2 separate regions of the Homo sapiens genome follow, and region 1 is linked to region 2. Evidence: fine-mapped expression QTL. A gene starts in region 2. The other region holds a variant in brackets. All regions are shown on one strand. Distances are from middle to middle. Region 1 overlaps DIAPH1 (diaphanous related formin 1). Region 2 holds the start of RELL2 (RELT like 2).

The links. PIP is the estimated chance that this variant, and not a neighbour inherited with it, causes the effect.
Region 1: its variant is fine-mapped to the expression of RELL2 in nucleus accumbens (GTEx, PIP 0.93).

Annotation. Positions count from the first base shown.
Region 1 is chr5:141,518,109-141,527,222 of GRCh38, forward strand. DIAPH1 (diaphanous related formin 1) reads right to left here. Exons shown (of 28, transcript NM_005219.5): 25 at 8,189-8,353; 26 at 7,930-8,065; 27 at 6,035-6,121. It overlaps LOC124901091 (a long non-coding RNA gene), which reads left to right. Exons shown (of 2, transcript XR_007058971.1): 2 at 873-2,528. Among named protein-coding and RNA genes, the nearest start is that of PCDHGC5, 34 kb to the left of the region's middle. RefSeq lists an enhancer at 3,114-3,408. The variant T/G (reference allele first, on the strand shown) is at 4,441.
Region 2 is chr5:141,633,139-141,642,252 of GRCh38, forward strand. It overlaps RELL2 (RELT like 2), which reads left to right and starts at 3,859. Exons shown (of 7, transcript NM_173828.5): 1 at 3,859-5,271; 2 at 5,657-5,722; 3 at 5,817-5,883; 4 at 6,326-6,511; 5 at 6,782-7,157; 6 at 7,274-7,307; 7 at 7,533-7,926. The coding sequence starts at 5,088. The coding sequence ends at 7,306. It overlaps HDAC3 (histone deacetylase 3), which reads right to left and starts at 3,711. Exons shown (of 15, transcript NM_003883.4): 1 at 3,598-3,711; 2 at 3,410-3,492; 3 at 1,673-1,815. The coding sequence starts at 3,652. It overlaps FCHSD1 (FCH and double SH3 domains 1), which reads right to left. Exons shown (of 20, transcript NM_033449.3): 19 at 8,564-8,619; 20 at 6,164-8,425. The coding sequence ends at 8,360. RefSeq lists enhancers at 1,031-1,160, 4,398-4,447, 5,148-5,267 and silencers at 3,184-3,478, 3,488-3,537, 3,598-3,887.

The sequences.
Region 1 (9,114 bases), 120 kb before region 2:
AATAGACTGGTGGTTGCCAGAGGCAAGGGGAGGGGAGAATCAGTAGTGACTGCTAATGGGGATTATGAAGTTTTTCTTCTGGGGATGATGAAACGTCCTGGAATTAGATAGTAATGGTTATACAATCTTGTGGATATTCTAAAACCCCTGAATTATACATTTTTAAAAGGTGAATTTTAGGTATGTAAATGATAGCTCAATTGGAAAAAAAAAAAAAAAAAAAAGACTTCCTGGAGATCTGGGAAAGCTGGAGTGGAGAAAGCAGTACCGGAATGTTTTAGAAGCAGGACCAGATGAAAGAGCCGAGCACTCCTAAATAAAGACCAAGACTGGGGCAGCTGCATGACTGGAATGAAGCGCCTTTTTGGACCAGCAAAAAGCTTTAGGTAGGCAGAAGCCAAACAGGATCAGATAGCCCGTCTTTTTTTTTTTTTTTTTGATGGAATCTCAGTCGCCCAGGCTGGAGTGCAGCAGCGCAATCACAGCTCACCGTAGCCTCAACCTCCCAGGCTCAAGTGATCCACCCACCTCAGCCTCCCTAGTAGCTGGGACTATAAGCATGTGCCACCATATCTGGCTATTTTTGTATTTTTTTGCAGAGATGGGGTCTCTCCATGTTGTCTAGGCTGGTCTTGAACTCCTGGGCTCAAGCAATCCTCCCACCTTGGAACCTAAAGTTCTGGGATTACAAGCATGAGTCACCACAGCCTGCCAAAGCCCAAGTCTTAACCAGGTCTTCTCTCCCTGCAGAGCCATGACCCAGAGCTACTGTTTTCATCCCAGGAGAGGCTGCCCATAGATCAAGCAGGGAACACGCAGCATGCACACAGGTTACCAATTTAAAGGTCTCCTCCTCCTCCTCTACTTCCCAGGGGCACAAGAGGTTGTCTACCAAGAGGAGAAAGAATAGTGAAGACCCTGACTGACAGCCACAGGACTTATCTAGTTACAGATCATAGGTATGTGCCCGAGACTGTGGGATTTTCACAAAACCATTTATTGGATTATGAACATAAACTAATGCCCCGTGACTGAGACAAGTGAGGAAAAGGAGCCTACGTGAGTGTGACTATGATGGTCTACATGTGTGCATTTCTCATACTGTCCTTACCACCAAAATCTTCCTCAGGCCTCCTACATTTCCACTCTCTTCTGAAGTACTCCCTCTCTAGACCCCATTTCTCATATCCAGAAGGGTAGTAGTTTCCTATCATTTTATTATTTCTTTGAATTCAGTCTCCAACAGTTGAGAAGACACTGCGACTCTGTGCATGTGTGTGTGTGTGTGTAACTCTAGTGGTATATATATGTTGAAATAACATCTGACTCCAGACCTTGGGAAAAGAACACTGGGCCACTTGTCCTGGGCAACACAGGAGAAGGCAGAGGTCCCATGTGGTAGGTCTTTAGCTGCTGCTTTCTGTGGTTTCTTCCTCCAAAATAAGAAGATACCAGTTGTACCTAACCAAGTGGTGTTTCTAGACTTTTCTGGACTCAAGAAGCTTCTGATGTATTACAAACTTCATAAGAACCAGGAGCAGAGAGTAGGTAGGGAGAAGATCAAAATTTCCCTTTTAAGCCTTGAAAGCCTATACACCAGGGAGGGTGTGATTTGGCCTAAGGTCAGGGGATGAGAAAGCTCTTGTTGGAACAGGTCTCCCAGCTTTCCACTCACTCACCATTATGCTCAGCAGGTTGAACAGTCAAGAAAAACTGACCTCCCCATGCTTCCCCCAACTTACTCACTTGTTATTAGACTATTGAAAAGTAGCCATAGAACCAGATAAATATTTTGACTACAAGAGAACAGTCCCACAGGCTGTGTGGGAAAAGGGAACAATGTTGAGATACTGGTGAATGCTCTCTGAGGACAGATTCCTAGAAGTTAGGGGTGGGCTAGGATAAAAACACCAGCAAAATCAACCATATAACGCAAGTTTTAAAAAGGTTAGTGATTTGAAAAAAGACCTTTATAAAACGTAGGCTAGGAACTATTACTAAAGAGGAAGTGCTCTTGTTAATACATTAAGCTTCCTTAGGGAAGAGGAAACTAGGACAGATGGGGCAATCATCATCACACTAAATAACTCATTCTTGTCTCAAACTCTGCTAATTATGTTTCTTGTCCTATTTACAAAAGTAGGGGGGAGAATAAGCAGTGGTACAGGAAATATTCTTAGCAACCTTCTCTAGATAGGAGGTGATATGGTTTGGATGTATGACCCCTCCAAACCTCATGCTGAAATGTGGACTACAATGTTGGAGGTGGGGCCTAGTGGGAGGCACTTGGGTCATGGGGTGGATCCCTTATGAGTGGCTTGGTGCCCTCCCCACAGTAATGAGCTCATACAAGCACTGGTTGTTTAAAAGAGCCTGGCATCTCTCTAGCTCCCACTTCCGCCTTGTGATACACCTTCTCCCCCCTTGATTGGAAGCTTCCTGAGGCCTCAACAGCAGATGCTGGCGCCATGCTTTCTCTACAGTCTGCAGAACTGTCAGCCAAATAAACCCCTTTTCTTTATAAATTACCCAGTCTCCAGTATTTCTTTATAATAATACAAAATAGACTAACACAGGTGGTCATGAGAGCACCTTCCTGAAGCAATGTCATTATGTCCGACTCTCCTTGCTGGAAGGTATGAAAGAATATTTCCGGCCCATACTGTGGGTTCACTGCTGTCTCCTGTTCAATCACGCAGGCTGAGGGGAAACAGGCCTGGACTTGGAGTCACAAAAGTGGGCTACAGTGCTCTGTCATTAGCCATGTAGACCTGGGCAAGACTTTATCTGTTTTTTATTTTTATTTTTTTGAGATGGAGTCTCATTCTGTCACCCAGGCTGAAGTGCAGTGGCGCAATCTCGGCTCACTGCAAGCTCCGCCTCCTGGGTTCATGCCATTCTCCTGCCTCAGCCTCCTGAGTAGCTGGGACTACAGGTGCCTGCCACCACGCCCGGCTAATTTTTTGTATTTTTGGTAGAGACAGAGTTTCACCGTGTTAGTCACCTTATCTGGTTTTAATCCCTTTCCCTATGAGAAGGTTAGATACTAATCACTGGAAGTCTTTAGAGTCTTTCCAACTCTATGGTTCTGTTAGATGGATGGAGCTTATAGGGAAGCTGGGAAATGGTAGAGGGAAGGAAAGGAAGAGTTGAATTTCTTTCTTCCCTTGGCTTTTATCCCAGTGAGCAAATGACTTGTATACAAGAGGCCACAATTCAGACATGGAGATAAAGTTGAGTCATTAAAACCACAAGCTGACTCAATCATGGGCCTGAAATAGCAGCTGTAATACAATCACATGGATTCTTCCCCTTGACACTCCAACCATTGTTCTCCCACACCCTGCGGATCACAGGAGTTTACATGTTGCTTTTAATGAACCAAGCCTGATAGTAACTCTCCTCTTCCAACTCCTCAATGAGTCTTTGTATACTGGTCACTCCCCCAGGTCTCCAGAGACCGGAAGAATTTAACATTCCTTTAAATTCTAGGGAAAAAGCTAGTGTCTTTGAATAGGGACAGCTGCCTCTCTGGAAAAAAGGAGGGCTATGAGGCAGATATGTTCCACAGTGCCTCTGTTTTTTTAGCTCAAAGCAATCAGCCAAGAGGAATAGTCAGAGACAGCCAGGCAAGGGGTGGAACAGCCAAATTCAGTAGCTGCATAGAGAAACCTATAGCCAGTGGAGCCTTTGTATTTTGAGAATGGGGCCATCTAAGTCCAGCCTCTCTCTCCTCTTAATCCTGTTGTCACTGCACAAAAAAAATATTAGAGCTGGAAGGGACCCTGCAGACCATTCATTCTAGTCCAACTCTCATTTTATACCTGAGGAACTGAGTCCCAGAAACATTAAGTGACTTGCTTAGGATAACACAGACAGCATCAGAACTAGATGTGACTTTAGGTCTTTTGATCCCTACCTAGCCCTGTGTTCTTTGTAATCTACTCTGATGGCTATCCTCCTGTTTAATGTGAGACCGCATCACATCACTTTACATGATGTGAATGCACCAGGGTCTAAAGAGTTACCAGAATAACTACAAATGTCTCCCTTGAGATTCTCCCAGATATATTCAAGTGTATTTAGTGGACCCAGAGCCTAGAAAGATAAGCTTATAGGCTAGAGCCACTTAAAATATATGTAATTGTCATTTCACCTACTTTCCAATTTAGTATCTCCTAGTATAAGTCTCCTCCTATTCCCTCTTGCATGGGAGAGAGTACTTTGACTAATTCAGGTCCTCTGCTGGAAGGTTAGTTTCCAACAAAATTCCTCCTTCCTCCACCTGTGAGTTCTGATTTTCTACTTGGAAAGAAGTGAAGAATGGGGCTTCCCCAGCAGAGGGAAGCCACTGATGTCTGGCTACCTGTGGACAGGAAGCATCTGGGATTCTAGTATAGTTCCACAGGAAGAGGCTTAAAAGGGAATTCCCCACCAAAA[T/G]TCTGATGCAGGCACTTAGCCGACGGGGTCAAAAAAAAAAAAAAAAAAAACAATAAGATGCAATGTATTTTTGTAAGGCTAGAAATGCTTAATGTTAAGGCCACATCACCTTGTGTGGTCAGTAGGAAATAATGTTGTAAGAACCTATAAAGACAAAATACAGGAGTAATAGTACCTCTAGCTGTACTCTCCTTGCAAACACCTATCTATAAGACTAAATGCTCGAGCCCAGAGAGTACTCAGCTCTTCATATCCACTTCTCCCCACGCTTTAGAAAGCCTGTACTCAGAGAATGCCAGAAAATGGGTAAGAACTTTGACTCGGGAGCTTTCAGTTTGGGGAACATTCTGAAGTCATACAAGAGAACCCTCAGAAGGGAGTATCACTCTGGTTATTCAGAGTATAGGTAGAAATGGGCAGCCAGCCATTACAGATGAAACTCACAGTGATGGCTGTTGTTGGGCCAGAATACTGAGTTTACATAGGCTAGCATGCTCTAAGGTCCCCCTTTCCAGGCTGTGGCAGGTACTACAGGCCCTACAGATACCACTGTATTAATAGCTAAGCACTGGCCAAAGCAAGCTGTGTTAACTCCTTCTGTTTACAATAATCTCAAAGTATAACTATCAAATGGGCCTACACAATGCAACAGCCAGGAAACAGGGAACATAGATTTAAGTCCCTCTGAAGTAGAAACCTCTAATGATGCCTTTTTTTGTAATTCCCACTCTTCAAATTAGTAAAGAAGCCACCACTCCTAGCCTCAAAAGACCTTCACTAGACACGATAGTGCAGGTCAACTCCACATGAGGGGCAGACTTGCCTATACCTTCCTTTGAATTAGTCTCTTGGCCACTGTAAGCTTCCCTGAAAGGGAACTTATTCATTAATCTTTTCCCATACTAATGCCTGGATCACTTGTCCTAGCTCCATAATTCTTTTTAGAATCTCTAGCTCAATGTAATCCACTTAGATCTTCCAAAGGACATGAAAGGAGATTGCAGGGCAGTGATGGGGAAGGCAAGGGCAATAGAGGCTAACTGCACTCAAGGAAAAGGTAGTTTTCAGACACGGCATAATCCTTCAACTGAGATGCTCCTCTATATTTTTCTATCTGGGAATAATGATGCCTAAACCTGTCTACAAAATTTTATACTTTCTATTATTAGTTCTCTCTACGTATGTCTTCTGCTTGTGAAGTCCAGAGTAAGGACTCTGACTTATTTTTTCTTTGAATTTCAATCTATATCTAATATACATTTTGTATTTAGATCAACTTTTGTTCATACACACAAATGCCAACTCAAATCCCTGGGTCCTGCAGCTCAGTTCCTTTGTTCCAAATATCTGCTTCAAGAGTGGGGAGAAATGCGGCATAATCCAATGTAACTGATTTATTGCCAGTCCCTTAAACCCCAGTTTTCTAAGTCGCTACTCTGTAACATGGGAAGAAGAGGACTAGATAATCCGTTCTGGATGCAGGGACTAAAAAGATGCTTAGAGCATCATTATTTGCTCTTTAGCCGCAGACTGGCAGGAGTAGAGAGCCCTCACCCCCTTCGACACCCAGGATGAGCTCCATGTGCTTACTTACCTTGACGGGGCCCTCTCTTCCGTCGGAATGCTGCCCCTGACTGCAGGGCTTCTAGAAGACTGTCCATCACACCTGTCTCATCGCCCTCTGTTATAAAGAACAAGATGGAGATGTGAACTCTTCAGCCAGAGCAGCATGGCAAATATCAAGCCCCACACAAAATGAATGGCTATTGCTTGATTTCCCCTCTCCCACAGCAGCTGGCAGCTAAGAAGAGGCAAAGAGAGCTCAGCCTTAAGTCTCACACGCTCATGTTTACTTGTATCTGCTAAAAAATGGTTAAAACAAAAGATCTCATTGCCTATTATCCAATGCAGACCTTGGGATATTTTCCCGCAATGCCATCCTCCCCACCCCAATCAGGACTAGCAACAAAATTATACAACTGCCCAACTCCAAGACCAGGATAAGTAGAGACTACGATTGTGAAATTACTAAGCAACTATATCACTCCCTTTTATCCTAAAGTGTTTTGCCTGGTTAGGTTTCAGAGCAGGGCCGAGGAAAGACCACTGATCAAAGAGTGCACTTTCCTGAAGTACTGCCTCCAGTGGCTAAGTCTTCCTGATGTCTAAGTCCTCTGCATCTAAGAGGAGCAGCCTGGCTGGAATACAAAGAGTTAATGTAGAATCCTTGTTCTAGCCTGGCTCGGTTTCCATGACAACAGCTTAGGATAGTGAAATCTGAAACTGTGAAATCCCAAAAAGTCCATAGGCTGCCAGATCCAAGGCTGGGGCTCACTGCTCCCAGCGCCACCTGCTGGCTGAGCATCACCAGTGCAGCTGACCTACATTCCACCCTCATTTGCTTGACCCGGGTACTGGAAACTGGGCAAGGTCCATTACGCCACCTGTTGACCGTGTGCAGCCCTCATCCCACATGTCAGCGGGACTCCACCTTCCCCCACTGCATCCTAGCCAGTACCTGGGGACAAACCCTGGAGTCCCAGGGGAAGGTGAAGGATACTTGGTGTGGGCTTTAATAGCATTACGAAGTTGTGGCTTACAACTAAGGGCAAGGAAATTGCTTTACAGAAAAGTATAAAAAGTCCCTGGTAGCAAGAGGTATCAGAGCAGCCCTTGTGCCTGTGCTCTGTAAAATACTGATTCCTAACAAACTCAGCAGCTCTGTGAACACCTCTTCATTTGCAGAAGGTTTGTGGCCCCTCAGGTTTAGAGGAGGGTGGCATGGGCTCAGTGCTGTGTGAGCAGTGTATGCTGTATTTCCGCTGCCCACAGAGAGAGCAGTGGGGGCGAAGGGGTAGGGAATCTGCAGCAAGAAAGAAGCAGAGACAGGAAACAGAGGGCCAGTAATTGAAACCATATGTTTCAACAAAGACATGCTTCTGGTAGTGAAACAGAGATTCTGCTGAAGAAAGAAGAGGGTGACCGGCTCCCCACCCGCTCCAAAAGTTCAATCCATTTAAAATCTAATTGTGCATACAACTGTGCTAAGGTACTAGGGACATAGTACTTTGTGAAATAAGCAGAAAGGGAAGACACGCCACAATTAAAAGATGGGAGGAGCGTCAGGAAAATATTTTACAGAAAAAAACCCGAAAGATTTAGTGGAGGGAATGAGAACAGGCCAGAGGAACCTTTGGATGGACAGAAGGAAAACAGTATATATCACAGCAATACCACAATCACAGGGGAATGAGAGAGAATGCAAGAGCGAGCAAAGGAGAGAAAAGGTAATAGTTTAACCAGGGCAAGTTGGAATGCGCATGTATCAGAATTGGGGTTAAAGTCCGGCATCAGGATCTCGGAGTGAAGACTGCCAAAAATCATTTGCCAGGAGGTGAGCTCAGACATGAGACTCTGCCTCTAGACTCTAGGCAGAGAAGTCTTCCCAACATTCCTATCTCAGCCCATCAACCCGTCTTCACTCCTCACCTGCATTCATGTCTATGAGTTGCTCTCTCTTCTGCTGCTTCTCTAGCCGCTCCTTCTCTGCCTTCTCCTTGGCTAGTTTTGCTCGCCTCATCTTTTCTTCTGTCTCCCGCCGCTTCTGGTTCTCCTTGACTGCTTGCTGGGGCAGGGAAGAGGAGGAAGGAACACATGGGCATTGTATACCTACTACCAGCCAACAGGAACCCAGGGGAAAGTGAGAAATGCCCACAAAAGATTCAGTCAGCAAGTATCCCTTGCTCACCAAAAACATATTCCGAAAATTGTGAAGATCCATGAAAAATTCTTCAACAGACAACTTCTTGGGGTCAAAGAGGAAGTACTCGCCCAGCTCCTTATAGAGGGTCTCCATGTTAGAATGCATCATCCGCAGCTTGTTATACTGTTCCTGTGCATCCTTCACAAAGCTGTGCAGCCAAGGAGTAAAGGACCAAGACCAAGACCAAGAAGCAGACCCACTTCTCTAGCCCAAGGAATTACTCAAAGATGAGTACTGGCATGCAAAGGGATGTTCAATACAGCACTGTTTATAACAGCAAAAACCAAAGCCATGTAGGTACCCCTAAATAGGGGAATAGTAAACCATGAACTATGGTACACCTATAAAAAAAGAAGGTGGCAGTTTAAACTGTTGTTTGTTTGTTTGTTTGTGTTTGTTTGTTTGAGACAGGGTTTTGTTCTATCGCCGGGCAGGAGTGCAGTGGCGCGATCTTGGCTCATTGCAACCTCCACCTCCTGGGTTCAAGCAATTCTCCTGCCTCAGCCTCCCAAGTAGCTGGAACTACAGGCGCGCACCATCACGCCCAGCTGATTTTTTTGTATTTTTAGTAGAGATGGGGTTTCACCATGCTGACCAGGATGGTCTCCATCTCTTGACCTAAAAGGAGGTTTTCTATAAATACTATTATGGAAACATGGCCAAGACATATGTGCAAAACACAATACAATGCAGTTTTTGTTTAAAATAAATGTATGAGGTGCAAATCAGAATAAAGTCCAGTGGCAGTGGTTACCTCTGGGGAGGGGAAAGAGAGGGAAGCATGTGTGAGCGTGTGTAGTGGAGACGGGGTACAGGCAGGGGAGTTGGTGGGACTTTTATGGTTGATCTGCATGGTGTGCTTCTACTCCACAACAATGGAATGCTCTCAGGAACTATGCAGCCTGGGCAAC
Region 2 (9,114 bases):
AGCACTCAGTAAATGGTAGCTATCATAAGAAATTCTACAGGATCAACAACCTGGTTTCTTCAAGAAATAAATTCAAGGGGGTGACAGAAAAGCTACAAATTAAAAGTCTTAAGAGACATATCAACCAAATGCACTGTATAGACCTTGTTTAGATCTGGATTTAAATTAGCTACAAAATAATTATGAGACAACTGCAGAAATTTGAATATTGATCCCATATTTGATGACATTAAGGAATCACTGTTAACTTTTTAGGTTTGATAATGATACTATGTTTTTTTAAAAGAGTATCATTTAGAGATACATAATAAAATATTTATGGATAAAAGGATATAACATCTAGGATCTGCTTTAAAACAATCTAACATGAGGGAGTATAGATGAAGTAAGAGTGGCCACTTGCTCAGCTGGGTGCGATGGCTCACGTCTGTAATCCCAGCACTTTTGGAGGCTGAGGCTGGTGGATCACCTGAGGTCAGGAGTTCAAAACCAGCCTGACCAACATAGTGAAACCCCATCTCTACTAAACATACAAAAATTAGCCAGGCATGGTGGCAGGCGCCTGTAATCCCAGCTACTCGGGAGTCTGAGGCATGAGAATCGCTTGAACCCAGGAGGCAGAGGTTGCAGTGAGCCAAGACTGCACCACTGCACTCCAGCCTGGGCTACAGAGTGAGACTCTGTCTCAAAAAAAAAAAAAAAAAAAAAAAGAGTGGCCATTTGCTCATAAGCGTTGAAGCTAGGTGATGGACGTATGGGAGGTCACTGCACTACTTCACTTTCAGAAATTTTTGAAATTTTCCCTAATAAAAAGTTTAAAAACAAAAGTAAGTAGAATTGAGCAACTGGTAGCTGTGATGGTTACTATTTTTTCATGGATATAGAGTAGAGTGTGGCTTATCTTTGTTGTCCACTCTCTTCCCCAGAGGGTCTAACCCTGACTCTTCTATGGATGATACAAGCTCAATGTAAACCTAATGATATCAAACCACTCCTTCGTTGTTTTTTTTGTTTTTTTAACTGCCCATAGCCCTCTTAAGATCCCTTGCTTTTTAAAACACTTTGATAGCTTCCCTCTACTCTACGGGTAAAAACCCCAATTCATAATAGAGCTGTTTGCTTTTAAAAGGTCCTATTTCTTTAGCCTCAATTCAGTTCACCTCCTCTTCATACTCTGCACTTGGCCTTTTTTCTGTTCCTCAAATGAGTCATACTCAGTCCTACCACAGACCCTTAGCACTTGTCCCTACTGCCTGCTATACTTCTCCCCTCACCCTCCAACCATCTTTCATCTGATTACTTCTACTCTTTTTTCAGATCTCAGCTCAATCTTTACTTCCTCTAGGAAGGCCCCACCGACCAGCCACTCCACCAAGCTAAACAATCCTCCACGTATACACTCTCATAATCTGTCATACACCTCCTCTTTATAAGACTTAGCAAAAATACGATATTAAAATTTTGTTTTTGTTCATCACTGCATTCCCAGCACTTAGCACAGGGCCTGCCTAGAACAAGTGACCAATAAATATTTATTGAATAAACAAATAAAATGAATTATGATGCATTGACAAGTAGGCCCCCCTTGAGATCTTCCCACTGCTGCCAAAAGACCTCACTGAAGGGCTTGGCATTAAACTGTTAGACATCAAAACTCCCAGTCCTCCCTCACCAGTCATCGCCTACGTTGAAGGCATTAAGACTCTTGGTGAAGCCTTGCATATTGGTGGGGCTGACTCTCTGCAGGAAGTCAATGTAGTCCTCGGAGTGGAAGCGGCACATGTCATGTTGGGAGGCCTGGTATGGCTTGAAGACCTCGGGATGGAGACACAAGATGAACCCAGGCAGGGTCAGCCCCACTCCACAGGCTCAGACCACCCATACTGAACCCAGTCCTGGAGACTATATGAAGCCAAACATAGCATTCCCCTCATCCCACAATCCTTAAGTCAGTAGAGAGACTCCGATTAACCAGGTAAGTTATTACAAATGAGCCCCCTGAAGACCACTTCTTTTCCTTTCCACCTCCAGCTCAGCCTATCGTACCTTCTCAACTTTGAGCCCTGATCCACCTGCCCTGTTCCTTGGAATCTCCTATTCCCAGTTCTCTCCATGCTCATCTCCTCCCCCAAGCTCTGATTCTGTCCTCTTTCCTCTGGATTCTTCTTTCTGGAGTCAAATATATGGGATATATGTCAACTTTCTAATTAAAATCAAAGATTTATTATCTTTGGAAGGTCAGGGGGATGTGTCACACCTCTTTGAAAACTGCACAAGAAAGAGCTTTTCTTCTCCCAGAAAATGCACACAGGTACATACAGGCAAACAATCTCAAGGGATATAGATTCCTGCACTAACATCACCTCAGTCTTTTCTATGACCAGTCCATTTGTCTGTGCCTTGGCACAAGCAATGAACATTCATTCATATTGTTCACTAGTTTCCCTAGCAACACATAAAGCCTGGGTTTAGCTGTTTTGTCTTATTTTTTCTTTTGAGACAAGGTCCTCCCTGTCAACTCAGGCTGCTGATCATAGATCACTGTAACTTTAAACTCCTGGGCCCAAGCCATCCTCTCGCCTCGGCCTCCCAAGTAGTTGGGACTACAGGCACACCCACCGCACATGGCTACTTTTTTTATTTTTATTTTTTGTAGATGTGGGTCCCACTGTGGCCCAAGCTGGTCTCCAACTCCTGGCCTCAAGCGATCCCCCCCATTTCAACCTCCCAAAGTGCTGGGATTACAGGCATGGGCCACCACGCCTGGCGTGGCTTAACTGTTACTATCCCATATCACAGCCATAAATTCCAAGCTGGGAAGACAGCATGTGTATGTCTGGTAGATGAAAAACTGGATAGCGATTAAGCAGAACCATGTAGAGGTATTCCAGGCTGAAAAAGGAATATCTAAAATATCGCCTCTGTTCCACACGCACATACACATTTACAAAGACGGCAGCATCGTTCCACCCTGGAGCCCTAGCTCCTTGGAGGTAAAGAAAGGTGGTAAAAGAGGAGTGGGAACTGAGGGTAAACCTCACACCCTGATACAGTGATATCCGCTCCCCTAACCCTAATTCCTGAGGCCAAGGCCCTATCCACACTCTAAAATGCAGAGGAGGAACACACCTTCTGTCTTCAAACCAGCCCCACATCACGCTAACCCTAGGCCAAGGGCTAGTGTGCCTACAGTCAGAGGGTGGCCGACCTGAGGTGAGAAAGTACTTTCCATTAAGCAGAGGACGCCACCCCCAACACCCTGCACTTTCAAGGTACTCCTGGTGACTTCTATCCAGCTCCCCGATACTCTAGGGGCGGGTCGCACTTCATGCACTCAGTCCAGCCCACCTATCCCTACGGCCACAGCTCGCCCCACCCCCCAACCCCCGGCCGAGGCGGCGGAACTCACGATCATCTTCTTATAGAGACCGTAATGCAGGACCAGGCTATGGGTCAATGCCAGGCGATGGGGCTTCATAGGGTGTCCAGCTCCTGGGGGTGGGGAGAAGAGAGTTCGTCAGCTCTCACCCCTGGAGTTGCAACCCCGCCTCAAAACCTCCGTGTCCCAACCCCTCATGCATATCCCTGTTTCCTCACCGTAGTGGAAGTTGCCCACGTCGGGGTCGTAGAAATAGGCCACGGTCTTGGCCATGGTGCCGGCGGGAGCAGGCCCCGCACCTCCGCCGCCCGCCGCCCGCGGCCGCCGCCAGCCCCTCCCCGGCCGTGCGTGCTGCGCAAGCACGTAGCCGGCCTCTGCGGAACTGGGCGTTGCGGCCCCGCCTCCATCCACACCCAGGCCACGCCCCCAGGGGAGCTCCGCCCCTCGCCCGGCTCAGCTCTCCCGGTATCTGGGGCTTTGAGCGTCCCGGGTTGGGCAGGGAACTGGCAGCATAGCTCCTAGGATGCGAGGGCCATTTGTCTCCGGCCGGGGGTCAGATCCTCGGGAAGCCGAGCCATCCCATCCAGCCGCTTGCCCCAAACCGGGCGCAGGCCGTGGTCACTTCTCTAGGAAGCTCCGAAGATCCCGCCACTCCGTCCCTCAAAGGTGCGGAAAGCCGGCTTCCCCCAGCCCTCGGAGAAGATTCCTGACTCTCCGCTCGGTCGGGGCATCTGAGGGCAGGAGCTGCGCCAGGCGTACCGGATAGACCAGTGGACAACACCCACGCCGGACCGCCTGTCCCCTACCCGGACCCAGACTCGGCGCCGCACATTGCCCCGGGGGGGCCCGGCGCAGTCACGCGCGCGCAGAGCTCACGCTCTCCGCCCCGCACACCTGCGCTCCGCCCCCTGGTCCTGGGCCCGCGACGGGTGAAGGCATTTGGGAAGCCAGGGCGGCTGCGGAGGCGATCTCCCTGACCCAGGGCCGGAGTTGCCCGGAGCCTGCCACCGCTCTCAGCCAGCCCGCATCCTTCTCTGTTCTTCCCTCCCCCCGCCTGCCACGGCGCGGGTATCCGCAGCCACAGCCCGGGGCCGGTGAGGCGGCGAAGGGGGAGGGGAGGAATCAAGGGATGAGCGCCGGAAGGGCGTCGGGGGCCCTGAGCCGCACTAGGACGCCCCTGGAGCCGGAACCCCAGCAGAAGCCGGAACCAGAACCAAATCACCGGTACCGGGTCGGCCAGGTGGTCAGGGTGGGAGAAACCAAAAAGGGAGAGGGGTGCGGGAGTACTGAGAGGAAGGGGCTGCAGAGGCCTGGCTCAGGCCGGCGTGGAGGAGGTGCGGGCGCTGACTCAGGCAGGATTTCTGCTCCCGCCGCCTAAGAATGCCGTCCCATCTCGTGCTGCAGTGTCCTTGGGAGGGACAGAAGCGCGAACAAGCTGGAAAGGGGAACGCTCGGGGCGTCGGGGAAGCGGGACCAGGGTCGTGGTAGAGAGCTTGCGTTGCCGCTGACCTCTTGCCGAAAGGCGAAACAGCACTCCTGGCCCGGACAGCTCCCTGGTTGGGTAGGGGGTGGGGCCGGACCTCAGCCGGACGTCTTAGACGTGCTTGTTTCAGATCCTGAGGACGGCATTCCTACCCCTCCCCCATTCCCAGCTGCAGCCCCCTAAACCCAGGAGGCGCCCTGGCCCGCGCTCGCCCCCCAGGGCCTCATGTCGGAACCACAGCCTGACCTGGAACCGCCCCAACATGGGCTATATATGCTCTTCCTGCTTGTGCTGGTCTTCTTCCTCATGGGCCTGGTAGGCTTCATGATCTGCCACGTGCTCAAGAAGAAGGGCTACCGCTGCCGCACGTCGAGGGGCTCTGAGCCTGACGATGCCCAGCTTCAGCCCCGTGAGTGAGGAGCCTGGAACCCTGGCTCAGTCACCTTTCACCCTTCTCCCCACACCTCTGCCTCCCTGACCAACAGACCCAGGCCAAATCCTGATCAAACCTGCTCAGGAAGCCTAGTGATGCACTCTTGAGTTAGCAAGTGGGGTGACACCACTCTGAAAGCAAAACTAGAGAAAGCAGCATGGGCAGGAACGGTCCTCTGGATGGTAGTCTTGGGCTTGCATTGGTGTCCCCATCTTTTCTGGTCCCTGAAATGCTGAGGTCCAGCATGATAGCAAGTAGGTAAAAGGGTATGTCCTAAGCAATAAATGATGGGAGCCACCAGGTAATATTCCCCCAAAGCTGACTCATTCCTGCTTCCTTGCCAATCTCTTTCATCCTTCAGCTGAGGACGATGACATGAATGAGGACACAGTAGAGAGGATTGTTCGCTGCATCATCCAGAATGAAGGTGGGTCTAGCATAGCCCCTTGCTCCCTCTTCTCCAACCTTCTCTTGCCCTGACCTCCACCTCCACTGACTCCCTCTTTTCCTTCTTCCCTCAGCCAATGCTGAGGCCTTGAAGGAGATGCTGGGGGACAGTGAAGGAGAAGGGACAGTGCAGCTGTCCAGGTGAGCTGGAAACAAGGGCCAGCATGACTTAGCTTGCCTTGGAGAGTATCCTCTCCTCCAGCACAATCCTCTCCCAGCCTCCTTGCATGTATGGGGTTGGGGGAAGGGCAAAGCTGGCTAACTTATAGGAAGAAAGTTGTTTTGTAGAAATCGCGATTCCTTCAAACCATCTCTCTCATCTAGATATCATCAAGCCTAACATTCACCTCTAGTGCCACTCCTTTGGGTTAAGCAGTGTTCTTTTTAGCAAACAGCCCTGGGAGGAAGAACATATGGTCACTAACATCTTAATATTGAGTTTATTAGATAAAGACAAGAAAAAATGGGGCTTGGGGAAATTGGGGCTTCTGGGGTTTTAAGGAGCATGCTGAAAGAACGTAAGAAACAAAACATGAAGGGAAATGGAAATGTTACCCTCACTCCCCTCCTCCCTGCTGTCCAGTGTGGATGCCACCTCCAGCCTGCAGGACGGAGCCCCCTCCCATCATCACACAGTGCACCTGGGCTCTGCAGCCCCTTGCCTCCATTGCAGCCGCAGCAAGAGGCCTCCACTTGTCCGTCAGGGACGCTCCAAGGAAGGAAAAAGCCGCCCCCGGACAGGGGAGACCACTGTGTTCTCTGTGGGCAGGTGGGGCAGGTGCTCCAGGGAAAGGGGGGCTGAGGTAGGGGGCCCAGTGATCAGGCACCTGATCCCAAAAGTGGGCCTTGGCTCTTTCCTCCTGGACTGGGAGCTCCGGCAGAAGTCAGGCTACACAATGTGCCCCACAATCTGAGAAGGCCTCCCCTACCTTAGGCCAGAGGGAAGTAGCCACCAAACTCAGGATGTCCCTGGTCAGAGGGGAGGGCCAAGCAGCCTCTGAGTTGTGGTCCTAAACCCCAGTGTTCCCTCCCCTCCCAGGTTCCGGGTGACACACATTGAGAAGCGCTATGGACTGCACGAACACCGTGATGGCTCCCCCACAGACAGGAGCTGGGGCTCTGGTGGGGGACAGGACCCAGGGGGTGGTCAGGGGTCTGGGGGAGGGCAGCCCAAGGCAGGGATGCCTGCCATGGAGAGGCTGCCCCCTGAGAGGCCACAGCCCCAGGTCCTAGCCAGCCCCCCAGTACAGAATGGAGGACTCAGGGACAGCAGCCTAACCCCTCGTGCACTTGAAGGGAACCCCAGAGCTTCTGCAGAGCCAACACTGAGGGCCGGAGGGAGGGGCCCAAGCCCAGGGCTGCCCACTCAAGAGGCAAATGGGCAGCCAAGCAAACCAGACACTTCTGATCACCAGGTAGGAAAACACAGCCGGGACTGCACTGGGCTGGGCTCTTATTGCTCTCTACTCTGGGGGGCACTGATAGGACCTACTCCTGGTCTCTCATTGTTGACCCCTCCCCTTTCTCTCAGGTGTCTCTACCACAGGGAGCAGGGAGTATGTGAGGTGAGTCTGCCTGAGCCCTAAATGAGGTAATCTCATCTTCCCATCACCTACTTAAACTATTTAAGCCTTTCGGCTCCCTGAACCCCCCGAGTAAACTGCAGGCTTAGCCTTTGCTATAAATCCCTTGGTTTGGTGGTGGAGGTAGGGAAGGTCCTGGAGCCCCAGGGGAAAAGCTGGACACAGCTTGAACAGGAAGCAACAGTGTTATTCTTCCTCTTCTCCAAGTCTCCTTCATTGTGCTGATGGACTACCAGCTGGCAGGGCCAGGGGGTGGGTGGGCGTGAAAGCCCTCCCCTCCACTGGACAGCACTGCCCCCCAGCTGAGGGACCAGCTCTACTTCCACCTGGAGTTGCACAGTCTCAGGCTGGGGGCCTCAGGAGAGGTCACAGCCCCTCAGTCTCTTCTCCTTCCCCTGCCTGCAACAGGCTGCCTGCCCCGCCTTCCCCAACACCTCGCTCCATATGATAGAGCGTGGCAGCTGGGAGCAGGCCCCTGCCCGTGGTGGGCCCCTAAAGCAATAGCACCGTAGGCCCCCTGCCCTCTTAGCACAAGAGGCCCAGGCCCTGGCCTGGCCTTCGTGCCCTTTATTCATTGTCAATAAATCCGCTCAGACCATTACAGCTGCTTCGCATCCTGGCTCCAGCTCCTGATTCCCAAGGCCTGTTCCTCTCCCCAGCCCAACCCCAGTGACCCTGGCATCCAGAGTGGGGTGGGTCATGGAGCCAGGGTGGGGAAAGAGGTGGGCCAGAACTACTAGAGACCTTGATGGATGGTTTCCAGCCCCAGAGATTTCAGGCATTTCACCACCCTAGATAGGGTCATGACAGAAGAGAAGGTAGTTCCGGTCCTAGAGATGATAGAACAATGGGAAAAAAAGGAGTGGGTTCCAGCTCTAGAAATGGGAAGGGGCAAGTTTCCACCCTTGGAGGTGAGGGTGGAAATAAGGGCGATTCCAGCTTTTGGCTGTGTTGCTCTGGATCATTGATGGTGTGGTCTGACAGCTTGAAGATAGGGACAGCAGCATCACTGGGGGTCAAGGCTTCCCTGGCCTTCAGGTGAGGGGATCTGGGTGGCCAGGATCCGGGGCTTTAGCCGGCGGGGGAGGTGGTGGACGCATCTGTAGGGAACACACAGTTAGTGCTCCAGAGTTCTCCCTTAAGGGTATCCCTGTCTATTCCCTCAGCCCTGCAGACAAAACAGGACTGGTTGGAATAACCCCTCTACATACAATCTCCTCCAAGGCAAGGGCCCTTACCGGCCTGAGTCGAGGTGCCATCATGTCCAGGAACCCAGGGAAGTCCAGGGCTTTGTCTGGAAATAAGAACCACAAGTCAGTCTTCAGACTTTGTTTTGTTCAATGCTGTATCTCCAGCACTTAGGACAGTGGCATTCTATAAATATTTGTTAAATTAATGGTCACCATCCTAGACCATAAAATCCATCACTCTATCCACTGTCCTCAACATTTATTGGGCAACTGCTGTATAATCAGCTCTGCTCAAGGTACAAAACTAAGGGAGATAGGATGCATAGTGCTCCCACCCCCAATGGCTGTCAAGAAACCAATAATGAAACCTCAACAAACACAATAAATGACTAAGTGCTAAGTCATGCAAAGTGAACTTGGGGTGGTGGAGATGGTGGTAACTCCAGGGAGGGAGACTCCTTGTGGACAAGGTGGAAGTACCAGAAAGTTTTAGAAAAGGCAGGCATTCCACAGCCATAAAAAAGAATGAAATCATGTCCTCTGCAGCAACATGAATGGAGTTGGATGCCATTATCCTAAGTGAACTAACTCAGAAACAG